2 separate regions of the Homo sapiens genome follow, and region 2 is linked to region 1. Evidence: fine-mapped expression QTL. A gene starts in region 1. The other region holds a variant in brackets. All regions are shown on one strand. Distances are from middle to middle. Region 1 holds the start of FBXO10 (F-box protein 10). Region 2 overlaps FBXO10 (F-box protein 10).

Region 1 (2,912 bases):
ATACTGGCTGTATAATTCAGTGTATGAGAGTTCCCTTTTCTCCATGTCCTCACCAGCATTTGTTATTTTTTTGTCTTTTTGTTAATAGTCATTCTAACTGGCAGTGTCAAATTTAACAAGTTCAAATGGGAGTTCTTGATCTCCCCCCGCTTCCAAATATATTCCCCTTACAATAGTTCCCATTTCAATAAATAGCACCTCCACGGGCCCAGTTAATAGGTTAAGCTACCAATCTCTGCTTCCACCCTTAACTCCTGTCTTCACATAGTAGCTGACATACTGCTTTAAAAGGTATCAAATCCTCCACCCCTTCGATGGCTTCCTGTTACGTACAATTTTAAAATCCTTATCATGGCCTATTAAGTGCTGCGTGATCTGGCCCCTACCTACCTTTCTGACCTCACTTATATTGTTCTTCCCGTTAAAAAGCTTCAGACAAGCTAGACGTTTTCCATTTCCACAAAGAGCGATCTTTTCTCCTCCAACCCAACCCACCTGGTCCAAGAGTTTTCACAGGGCTTACCCTGCCCCTCTTCCATTTGGCTAACTCTTTATCTTACTCTGAGAGGTCTTCCTTGACTACCCTTCCTTGGTCCCTAATTTATTTAGTTTTATTTTTGAAACAAGAGTCTCGCCCTGTCACCCAGGCTGGAGTGCAGTGGCACAATCATGGCTCACTGTTAACCTCGAACTCCTGAGCTCAAGTGATCTTTCCTCCAGCCTCGGCCTGCAAAAGCGCTGGGATTACAGGCATGAACACCTGGCCCCTATTTTTAAATTACAGCTCCTTCCGTGCATTTTCTACAATTTTAAACACATATTGGTTTAAATGACACTTGATTACCGTCTACCTTCTCCACTACAGAATTAACTTCAGGAGAAGAGGAACCATATCTGCTTTGTTCACTTTTGTGCCCATAATAGTAACGGCACCAGCAGCAACAAACATACAGCATTTACTTTGTGGCAGGCATTATGCTAAGCGCCATACATACAACTAATTTAATATGTACTCCTAGTACATTGTCTGGCAGGTAGCCAATGGTCAGTTTGTTCAGTGAATGAACCCAGACCCTACATGCTCATCTACAGGGTGCCTAGCACCCCAGGAAACTGCTCCTTATACTGTTAGATAACTGGTGCTCGCAGGAATCTTATTTACACTGTATTGGCCTTAGCATGCCTCCCTGCAGTTTCCACCCACTGGTTCTATTTCTGCCCCTTCTGGGGCCACGCAACACGAGCCTGAATCGTCCTTCCGCAAGCTCGCCTTTGCAGTACCCGAAGCCCCACGCGCCCCCTCCTCGTCTGCCTTCCTCCCGCCTCCCGGTGCCCCTCCTGCAGATACAGCTTTTATGCGCGGTGGTCGGGAAGCCCAGCCCCGGCCAGCCAGCTGCTCCCGGCATCCTTCGCCGCCTTGCGCGTCACATGACGGCGGCGGCTCCGCACGATCCCCAGGCAGCTGTCCGCCCCCGGGCGGGGCTGGCCGCACGCCGCAATCCTACCGGCTGCTGCGGCTCCAGCGGGGGCGGCGGGTGGCTTCCAGGGCACCGGCGGCCGCGGCCCGGACTCCGCGGTGGGCGAGCGCCCTGTGAGGTAAGCGGCCGGTGCGCAGAGGCTGCGGGCGAACTTGGGCGGCCGGGGGAGGGGACCCGGGGCGCTTCCCCAGGCGACCGACCCAGGAGGCGCCGCTCAGTCCTGGCCGAGGCTGAGCGTCTGGTCGGGCTTCGGGCATCAGGGGTCTGGCAGGACCATGAGGCGTACCCTCAGGCCGCCCGCGGCTCCGCGGTCCCCCGGCATCCGGAGGCTCAGGCGCGCCGACGGAGAGCTATGCCTTGGTTTACCCTCCCGTAAAACTACCGGACGCGGAGCATGTATCTCCGCGGTGCCTCCAGCCCTGAGATTTTTCGAGTGTGTAAGTAAAGTCGAAGAAGAAGAAGCTGACTCTTGGGATGGGAAGAGCCTTCACCTAGGAACGCAGGGGCAAATATGGGGCTGGGCACCCACTGTGTATTTTATGCAAATCTCAAGGGGCAAATATGGGGCTGGGCACCCACTGTGTATTTTATGCAAATCTCAAGCCTCTCAGACGGTTTTTTCATCTTTAAACAAAAAGTGATAACCCCTGTCCTGCCTCGCTCTTAGGACTACAGTGAAGAACAGAGGGGAAAGTCATTTGAGGAGCCAGAACTCTGGAGTCAGTTAGCTCTGGTTCAGATCACAGTTCTGCCACTTACTGGCTTTGTGACCTTCAGCCAGATTGATTCCTCATCTGTGAAAAGGAGGTAATAAGCTCATGGGTTGCTGGGAGGATTAATTGTAAAGGGTTTAGCACACAGTGTCTGGCACAAAAGCCTCAGTAGATAATGCTGTTAATATAAGCATTATTAGTAAGCTAGAGATTGCCCCACGTGAAGGGCTTTTTCAGCAGAATAATCACATTTGTTTCTATATTTTTAGTCCTGAAAACTGCCGTTTTGGTTTGTAAGACCTTTTCTTTTTCTCATTCTGGGCCCCCTTTGCCTTCTCTTTTACAATTGGCATATGAACCTGTTGTTCCTACCATATGAGTCAGGCTGGATGGGAACATCAATTTACTTGAGCAGATTGGTATCAGATTCCCTCTGAGGGGAGAGAAAAGTGCCAGGCATGTGTAGCCACCGAAAAAAAAAACACAGTACGGTGATTGACTGTCAGAGCTGGAGGATGCCTGGGAAACCATCTAATCCAGCTGTCTCCTTTGCAAATGGAGAGACTGGACCCAGAAGGACGACAGGACTTTGATTTTGCTCAGGACCCAACAGAGTGCTGGCAGTGGGTAGTGGAGAGGATGGACCTTTTACCAGGCACTGTGCTTTCCCTCAGTTCTAATCTCATTCCGCATTTATTCAGCAGCTATATGGAACCCCTAC
Region 2 (2,912 bases), 62 kb after region 1:
CAGGCTGTTCTTGGTGCCCTTCTTTGAGCTCATAGGCTCTTCACTGACCTGCCTGGCATGTTCCTGCCTCTTGGTTTTAGAACTGATAATTCACTTGCCCAGCTCTCCCACTCAGTCTGTGAATCCCTGAGGTGTGACAATCTCTGGCTGCCTCTCCCAGGTAATAAAGAACCGGATCCACTCGTTCCGGGCCTACGGCATCGCCGTGCGGGGCCGTGCCAAGGCCCTGGTGCAGGAAAACATCATCTTCCAGGGCAAAACCAGTAAGACCATCTTTCAGCAGATCTCAAACAACCGAGAATGCATCATGCAAAACAACAAGTTCCTGGTCTTCAAGAAAAAGTGAGTGCTTGGGGTTGCCTGAACGAGTCCTCTAGAGCCACAGTAAGCTCCCTGAAGAAGCCAGGCCCACACCCAGGGATTGTGGCTGCCCGGGCTCCCTGCAACCCTGCCAGCTGTCGACTCCAGTCAGAAAAAGGCCTGTGCCTGGCTCTATGTCAGGCCCGGGCTGAGGACTCCCCAGGAGGGAACAAGCTTTTTAAGAGTCAGGGGTATGTGGTTTCAGATCTCAGCTCTGCAGGTTACTGGCTGTGTGACCTTGGGCAACTTACTTCACATCTTCGAGCCTTAGTAAAATCCATTTAATAAGATCACACTATCTGGCTGAATCTCTGAGGGGCTGTAAAAATGTTAGTTGATGCTGCTGCTGTCCTTTAGTCACTCTGCCTCAATGTATCACAATTGCCGCCACCCATCTTCCTCAAACCTGTCTGTCCTTTCACGTTCTCCATTTCAGCGACATCACCATCCACTCAGTGTTCTGACAACAAAACTTCTGCTGCCTTTTTCTCCCTAATCCGAAGATGTCCAGTCAGTCAGTCACCAGGTCTTGTTGATTCTGCTTCTAAAATGTTCCTTTTTCCAGCACCTCCTCTTCCCCAACTGCCCCCATCCTAATTCAGGTCTCAGCACCGCTCACCCTAACCTGTACCGCCTGTGTTACTGCAATGCACAGCTGTTCCAGTTGCTTCTGCTTGGGCTGTGTTCTGATTGGTCCGTGCTTTCGCTTTCACATTCTGGTTGTAAAATCATACTGATATTTGCTGTAGTTGGTATCACTCCTGCACCGCCAATGTCACCTGTCCCCCTGCAGCAGCCTCCTGCCAGTCTCCCTGCCCGTGGCCACCCCCTGCTCCACTCTGGAGGTTGTCCCATGCATCCTGCCAGGTTAATCTTTCTAAGTGAGAGCTCTGGTCAGTCACATCACATCCATGGTTTAAAACCTCTCATGGATCTTCATGTTCTGTTGTAATGATCTCCATACTTTTTGTATTACACACACTCTCGGGAAAAAATATTCTTTGAAGAAACCCCCCGATGTAGGTATACCTAATTATTTATTTATTTATTTAGAGACCAAGTCTCACTCTGTTGCCCAGGCTGCAGTGCAGTGGTGCGATCT[T/C]GGCTCACTGCAACCTCTTCCTCCCAGATTCAAGCGATCCTCCTGCCTCAGCCTCCTGAGCAGCTGGGATTACAGGCGCCCACCACCACTCCCGGCTGATTTTTGTGTTTTTAGTAGAGACAGTTTCGCCATGTTGACCAGGCTGGTCTCGAACTCCTGACCTCAGGTGATCCACCCGCCTTGGCCTCCCAAAGTATTGAGATTACAGGTGTGAGCCACCGCGCCTCACCGGTATACCTATTTATAACTTATATATGTGTATTCTAGCAGTATATTATTTACATTATAAACTATCCCCAAAATAGAAAATTTTAAAGTATACAGTTAAAAAAAACCAAAATTCTAGTATTTTCTTCCAATATCCCAGCAGATTATATTGTGGACTCCCTGGGATCCACCTCCTCCTTCCCTTTGGAGACCCCAGGGTACAGGATACAGCCCGGACTTTGCCAATGCCAGCTCTGGTATTGTCCGCTGTGTACCCTGAGGTCCTAATTGTCTTTTCCAGCCTCTCATTTCATCACTCCTTTTCAGTAGTGCTCCCCTGCTGCCAAACTCAAATACATACAGTCCTCCCAACATAGCTTAGGCCTTTTTATTCACATGCTAGTAGCCAACCTCTGATTCCGTCCACACCTTTCCAGTCCTTTCATTGTAACATCATTATCATAAAAATACATATAAGACAATGTGTTGCCTTAAGCAAATGGAGACTTAGTGTGTAAAGTTGGTTCCTTGTAACTCAAGCATCAGAAAACTCTGACCACAGCTTCACTATCATTTTATTTTCCCTGGCCCTCCATGCTCTCTACAAGAGTTTGGGTGACTGGAAACCCACCAACTTCTATCCCCCATAGATTTGCATTTTCCCAAATGTCATATAAAAGAAATCGTGGCCGGGTGCGGTGGCTCACGCCTGTAATCCCAGCACTTTGGGAGGCCGAGGTGGGTGGATCACCTGAGGTCGGGATTTCGAGACCAGCCTGGCCAACATGGTGAAACCCCATCTCTACTAAAAATACAAAAATTAGCTGGGCATCATGGCACGCAACTGTAGTCCCAGCTACTCGGGAGGCTGAGCCAGGAGGATCACTCGAACCTGGGAGGAAGAGGTTGCAGTGAACCCAGATCACACTACTGCACTCCAGCCTGGGTAACAGAGCAAGACTCCGTCTCGGAAAAAATATATATATATATTAAAAAATAAAAGTAAAAACAAAAAAAACCCAGAAATCCTGCAGTATGTAGTCTTTTGAGTCTGGCTTCTTTCACTTAGCCTAACATGCTGGAGATTCATTCATGGTGTTGCATGTAAGGCGTTCATTCCTTTCAATTGCTGAGTAGTCTTCCCCTGTATGGGTGTACTGCACAGTTTATTCACTCATCAGCTGAAGCGTATTTAGGTAGTTTCTAGTTTTTGGTGATTATGAATAAAGCTTCTATAAACATT

What was found. PIP is the estimated chance that this variant, and not a neighbour inherited with it, causes the effect.
Region 2: its variant is fine-mapped to the expression of FBXO10 in whole blood (TOPMed, PIP 0.91).

Annotation. Positions count from the first base shown.
Region 1 is chr9:37,574,895-37,577,806 of GRCh38, reverse strand. FBXO10 (F-box protein 10) reads left to right here and starts at 1,427. Exons shown (of 11, transcript NM_012166.3): 1 at 1,427-1,596. RefSeq lists a silencer at 1,394-1,773.
Region 2 is chr9:37,513,334-37,516,245 of GRCh38, reverse strand. FBXO10 (F-box protein 10) reads left to right here. Exons shown (of 11, transcript NM_012166.3): 10 at 161-342. Among named protein-coding and RNA genes, the nearest start is that of POLR1E, 29 kb to the right of the region's middle. RefSeq lists an enhancer at 347-848. The variant T/C (reference allele first, on the strand shown) is at 1,463.